Regions from separate parts of the Homo sapiens genome. Here region 1 is linked to region 2. A link means that fine-mapping ties the variant in region 2 to the expression of a gene that starts in the linked region. Tissue or cell type: whole blood. Region 2 holds a variant in brackets; the other region holds the start of a gene. All regions are shown on one strand. Distances are from middle to middle.

The links. PIP is the estimated chance that this variant, and not a neighbour inherited with it, causes the effect.
Region 1: VDR starts here. The variant in region 2 is fine-mapped to the expression of VDR in whole blood (INTERVAL, PIP above 0.99).

Annotation. Positions count from the first base shown.
Region 1 is chr12:47,900,656-47,908,755 of GRCh38, forward strand. VDR (vitamin D receptor) reads right to left here and starts at 4,339. Exons shown (of 10, transcript NM_000376.3): 1 at 4,300-4,339. RefSeq lists an enhancer at 2,749-2,948 and a silencer at 4,332-4,461.
Region 2 is chr12:47,840,609-47,848,708 of GRCh38, forward strand. It overlaps VDR (vitamin D receptor), which reads right to left. Exons shown (of 10, transcript NM_000376.3): 8 at 6,049-6,200; 9 at 5,727-5,843; 10 at 929-4,397. The coding sequence ends at 4,138. Among named protein-coding and RNA genes, the nearest start is that of LINC02354, 16 kb to the left of the region's middle. RefSeq lists enhancers at 2,601-3,174, 3,175-3,747, 5,272-5,773. The variant A/G (reference allele first, on the strand shown) is at 4,366.

The sequences.
Region 1 (8,100 bases), 60 kb after region 2:
TACCAGCAGGTGGCACACACTGGATGTGTCACCAGCAAAGCCTCGGGCCTCATGGGTATTCCACAGTGCCTGGAATGTCCCACCTTGCATAACACCTCCAAGCTCCAGGTTGTCATCAGAAGGCCAGTGAGAGGCAGCAGCTTCTCAGGAACCAACTGCCGAGTCTGCACAGACTCCGCTTTCCCGCCGGTGCAGCTGCCCACACCCTGCTTAGGACCAGGACTCTCCCCTGTGCAGAATGAGGACTTTGTATGGCATCTGGTTCTGGGAACACCACTTAGTCTATTCCCTGGCACAGGACCTGCAGGGCAGGTTTGCAAAAGCATGACACACATTCCAACTCACAGAGTACTGACTGCTTCTGCCTTCCACTCCTGCTATTCACCAACCAGACACCCCCATCCTCTCCCAGCCAGCCTTGGGGTGGGGCGGTCTCACCACCTACCCCCCTTGCCCACAAGTCACTTCAAAGACATGACTTCCCAAGAGATCTTCACTTGCACTTTTCATTTGTTGGCAGTGAGAATGACTTCCTTCCTGGCAGAGTAACTGAGAGTCACTACATGGTCATCGTGGCGGCTCTGCTCCCTCCACGCCTATGCCCGATCACCCACAGGCTGGACCTCTGGGGATCCCACCCTTTGCATCTGGACCATGAGGACCCAGGACCCAGAAGGCAGGACAGTTTCTCTTCCACATGTCGCCACAGCGGGATGCAGGCACTGCCATCAACGCCTGTCACTTGGATTGAGCAAGAACAGCCTCTCCCCACCCTGGACCATTTCCCCAATAGTCAGACCAGACCAAAGAGGCAAACTCTAGTGTCTTTGGGAACTGACTCTGTCTCCTGCAATGCAGCTTCTCCCTGGCTTTGGCCTCCACTTTGCTTTTCATTTCCCCGGAACCTGATTATAGGTGACCTATGTCCTTTATCAGAGTGGGCGAGGTTTGCCTACCCTTGCCTTCCTGGCTGCTTACCTGCTTTACAGCCAGACTTTCTGTGGGATAGTGTGGTCCCCAGAGGTCTGGGAAGCTGGATGAGCAAAATGTGGAGGCTGTAGATATGGAGGAAGAGGGAAGAGGAAACGTGAGGCCCAGTCTTGGCTCCACTATGAACCCCAATTTCCCCAGGGGAAGCTGAAGAGGAGTTGGCAGACCTTCCTGTCCCTGTCTGAGGTTGGGGTGGGGCAGGAAAACCAAAGGTGAGGCCAGTCACAAGTCAAGGGTGAAGGGAAGTCACACGAGTGGTGGGCTGGGTCCCAGGACAGGGTGGCCGGGAGCAGTGCCGCCCCAGGGAAAAGACGAGAATTGGCTGATAACACCAGGGAGCAGGCTAGGGTGTCGGGGGCTGTCCTCAGAATTAAGCTACCCCTGTTTTCCCTTGAGCATTAAGCCTCCCCCAACCTTATCATCCCCTCATCACTGCTGTGACCTCTGCTGAGTTTGGAGTGATGATCACTAGGGTGATTAATATTCCATTTTTCCCTGGAAAGTTTGGGTTTATGTCCATTGTCCTGGTATAACCATGCATGGCATCCCCTTTCACTCTCAGAAGTATCCCAGTTTGCAAGATACATTACACAGGCACTCTTTCTAGCATATCTAGGAGGGCACTGACACAGGAAAAGGTTAGGGACAAATCAGAGGGAAGCAAAATGACAAGCAAGGCCTTGGTGGCCCAGAGTGGCAGCCAGGCTGGCTTCAGCCCAGCTGGATCCTCTCAGAACTGGACAATAGTGGAGGGAGAGCCTGAGAACTGCTGCCCACCCTGGGGCTCAAACTGTCTTGGAGTCAGGGGCCTGGTCTGGTGGGTTCTGCTTCCTGCTATCCCTCAGAGGGCCTGGAGTCATGCTGGGCACACAAGAGGCTCTTAATCAAATCTGGTCAATTCCTTATTTCCCTCTACCTGCATCCAAAACAGAATTGCAGCAGGGACAAATGGAAGCTGGAGCCCTGTAATTCTTTATTCAGCAACACACCAAATGTCATCTAGGTGGTCCTCCCGTCTCTGGCTCTCTGGCCCCTAGGACCTGACTGCTGCACAGGCAACAGCGAGTTTCTAGCAGAGGTTCCAGATGCCTATTCCAGCCAGGACAGCGGTGCCTCCTTAGGATGTGGGGTAAGGAATGAAACAATGGGAACTCCCTTTCGTGTCTTAGATAACCACCTGATGTAGTAGCCACCTGATGTAGCCCACTCGGTCCCAGGCCTTTCTCCATTCACAGCCTGGGCTTTGGACACCTGCTATCTGTTCTGGGGGTAGAGTGTAGGGGTTCAGGAGGTCCTCTCGGAGCTTCCTCTGGGGCTTAGTTACAAAAGAGATCAGTTTTGAGGTCAAATAGGGGAAGAATACTGAGAAACCATAAACACAAACTATCAGGGCACCCCAAACAGCACCCGACCTTCCATAATGTTTATACAAACAAAGTCTGATGGCCTCTGCCGAAGAGGAGTAAAGGGTTGGGAAGGCTTTCTAACTCTCATTTTTTCCCCTCCTTTCTTACCCCATTTTCTAGTCCCTCCTTTAGCTTGGTAAGGGTCCAAGTCACAGCTGATCAAGACCAGCCAAACCCAAAGCCATGGGACCCAGCCAGAGCATAGACTGTGAATTCCCCAGCTTTTTGCAGTTTGAGTCAGCCCCACAGCTGGATTGGCCTCCCAGGACTCTTCTCAAATAGGTCCAGAGAGGCTGCTGAGTGGGGGCCACGGACTCTGCAGGGAGGGCTACTTCTGTTCAACGATCTCTAGCACCCAAAACAAAAGCCAGGGAGAAATGTGCAGTCTTACTACCTTCTGGTCTGGCTGCATGCCAGCCCTGAGACTGTTTCAGAAAGACTCACAGTTCCCTCCAGCACTTGGACAGGGAAGGGACGGCAGGTCTCTCAACACACAACACTCTTAGTCCATAGAATTGAGGCTCCAATGTTCAGATAACCCATTTCTACCTCAGCAAATCACCCTCACTCCCTAGCCTGAGTTAAAGCCTTCTTTGCCAACACCATGACTTCTCTGGCCCCAGACTTTCCTAATTTCTTTTGCTCACCCCCTTCACTAGCAGAGATGGGCTGCTAATGAGACCACTAGGCAGAAATGGAAGGAAGGGCTGGAAAAGCCTGCAGTGCTGGGATGCACCTCCTTATCCCAGGAGAAAGATGAGATGTAGATTTATCATAAAGCCACTATCCCTTCACGGTCACCTCCTGCTAGAATCATCTCATAGCCATTCCATAAGCACTGCTGTGTTGGGTATCTGAGCCCCTGCCCATGAGGAAGACCACCTTCCAGCAGGGAGCTGGAGCAGAGCTGAACTCTGCCCAGGAGAGCTTCTGCAATGCTCAGAAAATGCCTGCCCAACTGCTTGCCTGGGCTCTGGCCCCTTTGGCTGCAACTGAGCCCAGACAGGAGGCTGACTCACTCACCGCACGCATAGAGGAGGAGGAGGAACAAGAGGAGGAGGAGGAGGAGGAGGAGAAGGAGGAGGAACTGTGAGAAGGGTCTGGGCTTGGAGACCTAAGGCTCCCCCAGCCCAGGCTAGGTCTCAGACTCTGGTCCCTGGGTGAAGAGAAGGAGGGGCAGTTGTACACTGGCCCTGGAGACCACAGGCTGTTCCCTCCTAGATACTTCTGAATCTTCCTCACCACCACCCACAGATCCAGGGCACCTCACTTTTCAAACAGAAACTACTCCTTGAGCCCCTTCCTCATTTAAATGCTTGCCCCTGAGTTCCTCTGAACATCTATTGACAGGCTGTCCTGAAAAAAAATAGGGCCAATTAGGTCTAAACTCATTGGTAGTTCAAAGAAAAGTAAAAAAAAAAAAAAAAAAAAAAAAATTACTTAAAAGACCCAACTCCACCATCACAGGTGACCATACCTGGGCCCTGTAAGACAATAAATAAGGTTACACACCCTCCACTCCAGCAGTTCTGAGCACCATCGACAGCCAATCGCTCCTTTTCTTATTCCTCCACTCCATGCCAAGGCGCCCCGACAGAAGAAGGAAACAAATACTTCTTGTTGCCCAAGTGCTAAGCACTGTGTTAGCGGAGCATTTCTCCTAAGCGCCGAGGATGTCGCTGCTCCCCTCGCCAGCCTGGCACGAACTTCAGCTTTCTCAAACCTCAGTGCCCCTTAGTGTCCCAGCCTCATGGCACGACAGCCCGGACCTCAGTAGCCAAGTTTACCGCTGAGACTTAGACTCTAATGCTCGCAGCCGGGCGCTCAGGCCCCGGTATCCCAGACGCCCCGACCCCGAGTCCCTATCCTGAGACCCCCTTTCCCGCTGCTCCCGGGTTCGCACCTGGTCCGGCCGGCGGGTGGACAAGCTGTTCCGCGCTCCCGGCGCACACGGCTCCGCTGCCGCCTTTTGACAAGCAGAGACAGCCCAGCACCTGGCCCCGCCTCTCGGTCAGGCCCCGCCCCGGCCCCGCCCCGCCCCTCCGCCCCGCCCACAGGTCCAGTCCTCTCTTGCCAGGAGCTCCGTTGGCGCTGCAACCATCTTGACTTGGAATCAACCACCCTATAGGCCACGCTGTAGCCTTAGATACTCTAACTCGTGAAATTTTCATCGACCGTCGTCCATAGGGCAAGGCACGCTTCTGCCCTCTGTGGGACAGAGTTGTCGATGATTATAGGTGCGGATACCCGCTTCAGCCTGTGTTAATCGGGGATGCAGCCCCCCACCCTTCCTGCCGTGGTTCTACCCAGCCTGCTGCGGACGCCTGAGCCAGGTGCGTCACCCCCACCTGGGCTGACCAGGCCAGGACTTCGTCGTCCGCGGGACGCTGGGGGGCGCCTGCCGACTGGCACCGGCGGCTAGCTCCGCACGAATGGGAAATCCCGGGCTCCGCTCGCCAACCTGTTACTGCTGCAGAACGCCAGGAAGCTCAGCCTGATCCCACAGATTAGGGTAAAATATCCCGGGGGGCCGAAGTGGAAACCGGAGTTGCGTCATTGCTCCCACCCGATATCACCTTGGCAGCGACCGCGGCTGACCACGTTCCCGGCCTGTCGCGAATCTCACCCAAGGGAGCTGAGTCTCAGCTTCCCTGGTCCCTGGTCCCGAGTTCCGCCTTCCCCCCCCGCCCCGTGGCATCGGCGTGAGGGGAAAAGATAAAGACTACCTCCTGAGACCTGGAATTGTGGATGGCTGCGGAAAACTCACCACAGGAAATTTTGGCTTAAAGTTATTCTCTGCTTCCCTTGACTGTGTGATAGGCACCGCTCTATCTGCTAGAGGACAGGTGAAAAAGATGGGGTTCCCTCTTCTTAGAACTCACTGTGCAGTGGGAGAATGTATAAATAAATAGTAATTACAACATAATCTTCTGGAATAGAAATGCTCACAAAATCATCCAGCAGTCGATGACCTCCTTTAGCCAGGGAAGATATTGCTATTCGCCTCTTACAGAGGAGGAAACCATGGCTCAGAGGGACAAGGTGAAAGGGTGGGAAATTGAGGCATAGAAAGTTTAAGTGATATGCCCAACATGACTCAGCTAATCAATGAAGGACTAGTGCTAGAGCCCAGCAAATCTGCTGGTGCAATGGTCTCTGAACCATTTCTGAGACAGCTATGCTGGACTACATCATAACCAGCCCCTCACAACTCAATAATAGGGTTAAAAGAAATAGACTGAGATTAAATAGAAGGAAGAACCTTCCAACAGTGAAGTTTGTTAAGCACTGCAACAGTTCATTATGGAGGTATCATGGCAACTTTCTGGGAAGACTTAAACAAAAGACAGAAGAGAGGCATAGCGTTTGATTGAACTTGGGAATGGACCATTTATTCTGAGAAACAGATGAAGTGCCCCTTTAGAGGTCCTGCCAGTCTGATGGATGGATTCTCTACCTGTAATGAAAGTAATAGGAAGGATCCCCTTGCCCAAAGCATCGTGGGAAAGCTAGCGGTGATTCTTGTGGGAAGAAAAGCATAAGAGGAAATTTCCAACCACCAATACCTTGGGACATTCTCTGCAAGTCCCATGAGCCTCTGAAAGAGGTTGAACACTCAGAAGTCACTTTTGTGGTGCTTGACTGGCCTGACATCTTGCAAATAAACCTTATCAAAAGATGGTGGAAGATGCGTACTAAGTATTCCGTAGTAACTGAGAGTTAGTCTTTTTTCACAGCCTTTGTTGGAGGAGAGGTACTTGTAATTCACATGTGTAAACTGCTTTATAATTTAAAAATTCTTTGGAATATCTTACTTGATCTTTATCATAGCCTTTTCAGACATGAAGAGTAAAAAATACCGTTCCATTGTACAACTGATGTGCAGAGTTGTCAAGGTTTCTACAGCTGAGGAGTGTCAGAGCTACTGGACCCAGATCTTCTCTCTGCACATCCCACTGTTTCATGCTGCCTCTAAAAAACAAAAAAAAAATTTCCATGCATGCACTTTTCACAGAGTTGAAGAACTCAGAGGTTCTGCGTTTGGCAGATGGGCAAGATTATAGATGTCATCACGGTCCCCAGCACATGCCGTCATCAGCCCCGTCACCTTGTCTGTAACCATGTTCTTCCCATATTCCCCCAATACCTGAACTGTTCTCTCTCATCCACCTCTCCAGACCCTCTCCTCTTTCAGGTCCTGCCTATTCCATCAGGCTTTTCCAACATCTCCAGGAAAGGAACTGTCAATTCTCTGGTCTTTGTAGCGCATGCATTTTCTATATTGCATGGTTTGGCACCTGCTAATGAACCATCTTGTATTTACATTGAACAAAGATAGATTTTTTTTTGCCTGTTTTATTCTTAGAAGGAAGGTTATTTTGTGAAAGTAGAAAAGCAACATCATATGAGATTCACTTCTCCTGTGTTCTGTTGTAATCCCTAATTGTCTCTGGACCCTACTTCTCCCTAGCCAGGTACACAACTGGAAAGGGAGGTTGCTGTCCCACACCGTGTTCTCTTGATGCCTCGATGACAAGCACCATTCCTGCACTACAGAGTTAATAGTTTTAAATTCCCCTATCTTGACTTCTCCATAAACCAGGTACCAGAACCTCTGCAGAAGACATTAATTTTTCTTTTCCCTGAAGTTAACATTTCTCATATTCTCACTTATCCCTGGGATGGGTAGTGGTCTTTATTGGGATGTACAGATTGTTTTTTGTCAGTACTCATCTCTGCCAAATTACATCAGGGAATATCTCGTAAGCACTTGCTTGGTTAATATTAGCCAAGTCTGGTGGTGTGCTAGATACTCTGCTATAGTGCTATAGACTCAAAAATCTATATAGAAACAAAAGAGCCCTTCCCGGTGCATCTGACTTTGATGGAAAGATTCCAGAGGTACTAGGCTGAGGATTTCGTTTCATTCATTTCATTCCTGTGCATTTCATTCCACAGAGTCCAAAGAAAGGCAGGGCCTGGTCTCTTGACCTCTCTGCCAGGCTCCAGGCACCTGGGGATGGCCTGGGCAGTTGTGGCTACAGTCAGGCCACAGGACTGCAGCCTGTCCTCATCTCTGGGCTTCCTTTTTCTGCAGCCTGGCCACTGTCCTCGAGGCTGGCTGATGCTCTCTGCACTTCTTGCTGTGGTGTCAGAGCTAGAGTGGGTCACTTTGTCCCTGTGAGTCTCCCAGAGACCCTGTCCCCATGGACAGAGGTTTTTTGAGCTGTCTAAAGGCTGCTCTGCAGGTAAAAATGTGCCCTTTGAGCTCTCTCTGGAACACTCCCATCTGACTGTTTGTTTTTCCCTTTTTTAGGGCCATTTTCCCCCCTTAAATATTTTATGGTTATGAGCACGGTAGGACTGAAGAGAAGCCTCTCTTCAGTAAACACCCAGAGAACATTCTGAGAGACATGAGCGTGGAGTTAGAAAGACAGAAGGGACCAGGCCATCTTTTCAGTTTGTTCCCTTGTTTTAGAGATTTTTTAAAAAACACACGTTAAGTTCAGAAAGATTAATTCATTTATATTTCCTAACCCAAGTTAAGACAAAAAGGATCAGGGATGACTCTCCTTATTTATGTTCCAGATGGTAAAAATAGAATGAATAAATGTAAGAAGCTGTAGCAATGAAAGCAAACCAAGGGGTCTTCCCAGGACAGTATTTTTCAAAATTTTAACTGCAACCCATAATAAGAAATAAG
Region 2 (8,100 bases):
TTACCTGGAAAAGCGCATTATAACACAGCCTTGGAAATTTTGTGTTCTTCTAGGTCAGCTATAAAAATGCTACATAAGATCCTTCTAACAGTGTATCAGAACTCCATTCTCCACATTTCTCCAGCCAGAGACATGCCCATTTATGCAGCTGTTGATTTCCTTTCTCTAAGTCCCTTCATGTTTCACAAAATAACCCTCAAGTTCTAACCCCAATTCCCCTAAGTCCATCTCATCCCACTGAAACACATTTTAGCCTTTGGTTTGAAATATTTTCAGATGTTTCTGAAAAATTAGAGTGAATCACATCCCCAGGCCAACTTATCCTCAATCAATACATTAGCTGGCATGATTTCCTTATTTTCAGATCACAATGCTGTGTTCTTGTTTACTGTGCCTAGCAATGCTACCCTTCATCATAAACCCCACTTCCTTGGGAAGCAGAATGGAGTGCATCGGCATAAGTTGGGCCCCTTAGGAGTCCTGTTTCTGCACAGCAGTCATTTGTAATCCTCCAGGTCACTGGCACAGCCGCCATCTCTAATGGCAGACACAGTTTTGCCAGTAGCTGTTTGGTTTTCATTTTTGAGGGTCTCACGTAGGTGTCATATATTGACTGCACACTTCCTGGGAGTAGAGCACAGTTTGGTCCAGCACCTCTAATTTTCCTGGCTCAGGGCCTGCTTTAGGAATGGGAACCTCTTTTATCTCCTCTCTAGGAGAGAGCTAGCAAGACCATCAGTCGTCTGTCAGGTCCCCCAACTCAATAGGAAGCAGGACAATGTAGCAGTTAATTTGTGGCTTCTGAACCTAGCTGCTGAAGGTTCAAATCCCATCCCTTGCTAGTGTGGCATTGCTCAAGCTATCCTTTCTGTCAAATGGGGGTAATAATGATTCATCTCCCATAAGGTCCTTATAAGGATAAGGCAAATTGGTTTGCATAAAGCATTTATTTACAGCAGTACTTGCAACAAAGTAAGTGCTATATAAGTATGAGCCATTTTTATTACCATAAGCAAAGCTTTCTACATTGGTTGACTTGACAAACTTCTGGCAAACTTTTTTTCTCTTTGGAAATCATTCAGCAGGCACTGTTTACATCCTTTCGCTGCCATATCTCTAGCTTTCACTAAATCTGCCACACATTCCTGCCTTCTCTGTTGACCTCGCTTGGATTCTCCTACATGCTTCCAGTTAGCCAGCCAGAGGATTTTCCTGTCTCTGGGAATCTTGTGGAAAATCTTGCATTTTGGGGCACCTTCTCCTTCAGTTATAATGATATACCTTAAAAGTTTTACATTTACAAATGTCTATTTCACACTCTCATTCTAAAGTAGAATCGATGATGACCTTTTCTCCCCGTTCAGCCCCATAAAAACTCATTTTCCCCTCTTTTCTTTTCCTCCCAGCTCCTAGACTTCCTTTGGAGGAGTGGCCTAGGTGGTGGGGCCCAGGGCTGAGTAACTGATATTTCCAGGAGTTCCCCGAAGAAGGCAGGGCCAGAGGGAGAGCTGGGAAGGTGGTGACATTACAAAGACAAATGCATGTTATAGATGAGGCAACAGCATTATCCAAGGCTGAGGTGGAGAGCCCAGCAGGCCAGGGCCACATCGTGGTGGGGTAGGGTCTGATTCACATTGAGGCAGAGGTGAGTCTCCTTCCTTCTCCTTCTGATGGGTTGGTGGAGTTACAAGCCAGGGAAGGAAGGAAAGGGTCCCAGATCCAGACTTGCTCTTTCTGAAATCCAGGGCTTCCCCCAGGGACTGGGTCAGCCACCTGGGGAATGAGAGTGGGGGTCTGAGCTCAAACATGGTGTAGTGAAAAGGACACCGGACCATGACTCCAAAATCTGGTCCTGTCCTGGTCCACTTCTAAGACGGAGTTTCGCTCTTGTTGTCCAGGTTGGAGAGTAACGGCACGATCTCAGCTCACTGCAACCTCCACCTCCTGGGTTCAATTCTTCTGCCTCAGCCTCCTGAGTAGCTGGGATTACAGGCTTGCGCCACCATGCCCGGCTATTTTTTTTTTTTTTTTTTTTGTATTTTTAATAGAGACAGGGTTTCTCCATGTTGGTCAGGTTGGTCTCGAACTCCCGACCTCAGGTGATCCACCTACCTCGACCTCCCAAACTGCTGGGATTACAGGCGTGAGCCACCGCGCCGGGCCTGTCCTGGCCCACTTCTAGCTAGTTATATATGCTTGGGTGAGTCACGCCCTCCTCTGTCAGTTTTCCTGAATGAGGGGATTGACTCGTTTAGCAACTTACAAGTGTTTTCTCCCACTGAAGAGCAAGCTGGACCAATACGTTCTGCAGCTAAAATCAAACAAGGGTCTCTCCCTAGACCCTTGTAAAATAACAACAGCAATAATAATTAATGTACAGAAGTTTCACAATGTAAGTTCTCCCCCCATAAATATCTCCAAATCAGTGGTACCTGCTACCCTGTATATTAGACTATAATACAAATGGAGTCTGAGTCTGAAAACAACTCATATCTAATAAATTTAAGATTAAGCGATATATATGCTATTCTGCAGTAAGGAACGTGGCTTTCAGATGTTTTTCCACCTGAAGAATTCTGAGAGACATGGGGCCAGGTGGACACCAAGGCTCTTGCAGTGTGAAGTCTGATTCCTCTCTGGGTTTTCAGGGAACTACGGATGCAGGTGCAAGGACACAGCTTCCAGGAGTTGGGGCAGTCACGTTCCCACTGACTTTAACATTCCTGGTGACTCAGGGAATGCGGCCGCATTCCCCAAACTCAAGCACTGATCTGAAGAAGCCTCTGTGATCCACCTCGAAGAACGCCTTTCTGTACCGGTCCCGCACACCTACAGCTCACTCTCACAAAGACCCCACCTTGGAGTAAACGGACAGACGCTTCCCACCAGCTGGGCTGGGCTGGCTGCAGAGAGCATGCACTTGAAGTTGTATCACTCCGCCCCTGCCTCACAGGCACCTTTTGACTTTTGGGTGGTGGAGTGAGAATAAGAAGGCACCTTACCCTACATCACGGAACCCCCAAACACTCTCTCTGACTAGCCACCCGAGACTGCCCCGCTCTCCCTTCCCACACTCTGGGGTGCGGCAGCGCTAGCTCTTAGCCCTGTGGGTGAACAGCGGCCTTGCAACCACATTGAGGCGGCAGGGAGATCATGACTCAGCCGCTGGGGTCTGAAAATTCTTCTCCTCCATCCCACCCTGCCAGATGGAGAAGATGCGGCTCACTGCTTCTCCAGACCCTCTCCCCTGGGGAGGGGGTGGGGGAGCAGGCTCTCGGCTACTCTCGGTGATCCGAGGAGGACAGGGAGGGCTGGCTCTCCTGGGCAGGAGGTAAGGCACTGGCAGGGGGAGGACGAGGTCGGCAGGTGCTTTTCTGCAAACTGGGGACAATTCAGTCCTGCTACATGGATCCGTGGAAGGAGGGCTTCCACCTCAACCAACCCCTTAGACCCAGGGCGAGGAACTGTGAGCTTGGTGACAGGGACAGCTGTCATATTCTTCTGTGAGGCTGTTTTTGTCTGTTTTTCCTCCTTGGGTCTCTCAGCAGGTGGGTTCGTGCCTGGTGCTCCAGTGATGGGAAGAAAACCCACCTCACCACAGCTACTGCCCGTGAGAATATAACCAGGGCAATGGGATGTTGGTGGGCACTGAAGGGGGTGGGGTGGGAGCTGTGGGCCGATTATTTATCGTGAGTAGGCAGGAGAGGGAGACCCCACTAGGCGCTGGACAAGCGGGGCCTGCAGTGGGGGGAGGTGCAGGTGTCTCTGTCCCTGAGGAATGGATGCATTTCTCCTGTCTGTTCCCTCAACATCAGTCAGCAGCCACTTAGGCAGCGGTGGAGGCATCTCTGGGCAAGGCCCTGCCTCCAGCCTCTGCCCTCTGCCCCCACTTGGGTTTCTTTGTCAAACAAACAGCAACTCCTCATGGCTGAGGTCTCAAGGGACCGGGGAAAAGCCCGCAGGAAAGGGGTTAGGTTGGACAGGAGAGAGAATGGGCTGGGTGGATAGGGGAGGTGGCAGAGGAGGGGCTGAACCCCAGACGGGGTGAGGAGGGCTGCTGAGTAGCCGCCAGCCCCGGGCCTGGCACGTGGCCCTGGAGGAGCAGCCCCACCCAGGCACCGCCACAGGCTGTCCTAGTCAGGAGATCTCATTGCCAAACACTTCGAGCACAAGGGGCGTTAGCTTCATGCTGCACTCAGGCTGGAAGGAGAGGCAGCGGTACTGCTTGGAGTGCTCCTCATTGAGGCTGCGCAGGTCGGCTAGCTTCTGGATCATCTTGGCATAGAGCAGGTGGCTGCCCGGGGGCGGGTGGCGGCAGCGGATGTACGTCTGCAGTGTGTTGGACAGGCGGTCCTGGATGGCCTC[A/G]ATCAGCGCGGCGTCCTGCACCCCAGGACGATCTGTGGGCACGGGGATAGAGAAGAAGGCACAGGAGCTCTCAGCTGGGCCCCTCACTGCTCAATCCCACCACCCCCCACCCACACAGACACTCAACGGCAGCACCCCCTAGGCCACCCCTCTATGACTGCTGACCGGTGATACCACTGCCTGGCCCCAAAGCCCTCCAGTGACTTCTCCGTGCATTTAGGATCCAGACCTAGGTCCTTCCATGGGCGCACCTGGCCCTGTCCCTGCCTGGCCTTGCTCCCTGTCCATGCTCTGTCCATCCCTCAGCGTCCCGATGCGCCATGCTCTCTGGCCACCAGCCTTCACATCTGTGCTCCCTCTGCTTGGAACTCTGCTCTGCTATCTTTGCCAGACTCTTACTGATCCTTTGGATAACAGCTTAAAAGGTCTTCCTCCAAAAGGCCATTCCTGGCAACACTCTACCTCTGTAGCCCAGACCACGTCAGCTTCCCTCCTTCTATTCTACCCTTCTGTAGCATCACTTACTTTATTTTTAAAACTCTTGCCTTGTTAGGAATTAATAATTAAATAACATTTGTTTAATGTTTCCTCCTAAGCTTCATGGGAGAGGAGCCTGTGTCCCATTTGCTGCTGAACCCCAGTACCTAGCATAGTGCCTGGTACCTAATAGGTGCTCAATAAATTGTTGCTAAGTGGATGAATGAATGAGAGAAGGCTGGCTGGGCAGGGGTAGAGGAGCCCATCTCCATTCCTTGAGCCTCCAGTCCAGGAAAGCATCCCTGGGCACAGGCCACTAGCACAGGCTGAGGCAGGGCCGCCCCTCTTTGGACCTCATCACCGACATCATGTCCCCAAGGTCACAATAACTTCCTCTTCGGCCTTTTCTCCCTCTTCTCACCTCTAACCAGCGGAAGAGGTCAAGGGTCACTGCACATTGCCTCCAAAATCAATCAGGTAAACTATATAGGCAGAACCATCTCTCAGGCTCCAAAGTTTTGTACCCTGCCCGCAAGAAACCTCAAATAACAGGAATGTTGAGCCCAGTTCACGCAAGAGCAGAGCCTGAGTATTGGGAATGCGCAGGCCTGTCTGTGGCCCCAGGAACCCTGCTTATCTAGTTCCTCAGAATCCCCCCTACGAATCGCCTGCACACTCTGCAAGGCAGAGCTAAGGGCAGTGAGGGGCACCTCAGCGTCCACACACCACAGGGGCTCTGCAAACCAGCAAAGTAGGTATTTCCTTATCTGTGTCTCCTTTTGCTACGTCTCCCTTCAGGTTGCCCAGCTGGCCCTCAGCAGGTCTTTGTCCTTCATACTCCCCGCTCCCCAGGTCCCTGAGCTCCTCCCTGCCTGGCCCCATACCTGGGGAGACGATGCAGATGGCCATGAGCAGGACATGCTCCTCCTCATGCAAGTTCAGCTTCTTCAGTCCCACCTGGAACTTGATGAGGGGCTCAATCAGCTCCAGGCTGTGTCCGGCTGTGAGAGACAATGGCCAGGTACTGCGGGCAGAGCTGAGGAGCCGCCCACCCACCTCCAACCCCATGGGTCTGACCCTCGCCCTTCTCTCCCTGTTGGTGCCTAACTCCCTCCCATGTATCTGATTGGAGCCAAACCCCAGGACGGGTGGAGCCAGAATCTGGGAGCTGAAAAAGACTCCCCAGGAGGTGGAGTCTAGGCATACCTTTGGTCACGTCACTGACGCGGTACTTGTAGTCTTGGTTGCCACAGGTCCAGGACATGTCGTCCATGGTGAAGGACTCATTGGAGCGCAACATGATGACCTCAATGGCACTTGACTTCAGCAGTACGATCTGGTCCTCAGAGGTGAGGTCTCTGCAGGGGAGGGAGGGAAGGAGGTCAGGTTACCAGTAAACGCCTTCAAGCCACACAAATCAGTTTAGTGCTTTGACAGGTATACACCTGCTGGGCACCAACATGCACCCTGGGTCTTTCATCGAGGAGCTTGCAGGCTGGCTGGAAGGGACAAGAGTGTTCCTTGAGAGAGAACAGTTCAACACTGTGATCATGTGCCAAGGCCAGAAGTGAAGTAGCTCAGTTACTAAGACAAGAAAAACTCAGAGACCAAGCAGCCAGAGCTATGGGGCACAGGAAACGGAGCCCAGGGAAGTTCCCAGCATTGAGGCATGAATATGGTGGTCTGCAAAAGGTAGGGCCATGGTATCTTCAACAACACCCAAGTTTTCTCCTCCTCTCCCTCCTACTGTCCTCCAGTCCTTCTCAGTAGTAAATTCAGCCAACTCTGTCTCTAGGATGTCTCTCAAGCCCGTGATCTTATTCCCACTCCTACCAGGAGTGCCCTGGTTCAGAGCTCCAGCGTCTTTTCCAATAGCCTCTTACAGGAATCCCAGACTTGTGTCTCTCCAGTCTCTCATTCATCTTTCTTACCACTGCTGCAGGTCAATGTCCTCTTGCACTCAGAAATCTTCACTGACTCTCAAACACCCTAGGATCAGGCCCACACTCCCTAACTTGGCTCCAACCTCTCATTCCAACTCCCTTTCCCATGGTAAACTCCACCAACCTTCCATTCTAGCAGCATCATGCCACTCCACATTCAGATGCTGTGTGTTCTCACTGTGCCTTTTTTTTTTCTTGTGACAGGATCTCACTCTGTTGCTGAGGCTGGAGTGCAGTGTTATGATCATAGCATGCTACAGCCTCAAACTCCTGGGCTCAAGTGAGTCTCCCACCTCAGCCTTCCGAATAGCTAAGACTACAAGCATGCGCCACCATGCTCAGCTAATTTCTTTTATTAGTATTTTTAGAGACAGTGTCCTGTTCTGTCACACAAGCTGGAGTGCAACAGAATGATTATGGCTTACTGCAGCCTCAAACTCCTGGGCTCAAGCAGTCCTCCTGCCTCAGCCTCCTAAGTAGCTGGGACTACAGGTGCACACCATCACGCCTAGCTAATTTTTTTTGAGACGGAGTCTCACTTTGTCGCCCAGGCTGGAGTGCAGTGGCGCGATCTCGGCTCACTGCAAGCTTCGCCTCCCAGGTTCACGCCATTCTCCTGCCTCAGCCTCCCGAGTAGCTGGGACTACAGGTGCCCGCCACCATGGCCAGCTAATTTTTTTTTGTATTTTTAGTAGAGACGAGGTTTCACAGTGTTAGCCAGGATGGTCTCGATCTCCTGACCTTGTGATCTGCCTGCCTAGGCTTCCCAAAGTGCTGGGATTACAGGTGTACGCCTAGCTAATTTTTAAATTTTTTTTGTAGGGATGGTGTCTCACTATGTGGCCCAGGCTGGTCTCAAATTCCTGGCCTCAAGTGATCCTCTCATCTTGGCCTCTCAAAGAACCAGGGTTACAGGTGTGAGCCACTGCACCCAGCCATCACCACGCCTTTCAGCATACTACAGCTCCAGCCAGGAATACCCTTCTAATTCTCCATTTTGTTTTTCTGGTCCTGAATCCACTGTGTTTTCCACTGGAGCCCCGCACCTTCTGACTCTTTAGCACAGTTAGGGCCATGTCATTGTGATGCCTTGAACATTGCTGGTGCTCTTATTTTGCCCGTCTCCTCCAGTTCTGCTCTTTACATGCTTGTTTTCTACTCCTTTTTTTTTTTTTTTTTTTTTTTTTTTTTGAGACAGAGTCTTGCTCTGTTGCCCAGGCTGGAGTGCAGTGGTGAGATCTTGGCTCACTGCAACCTCCACCTCCCAGGTTCAAGCAATTCTCCTACCTCAGCCTCCTGAGTAGCTGGGATTAGA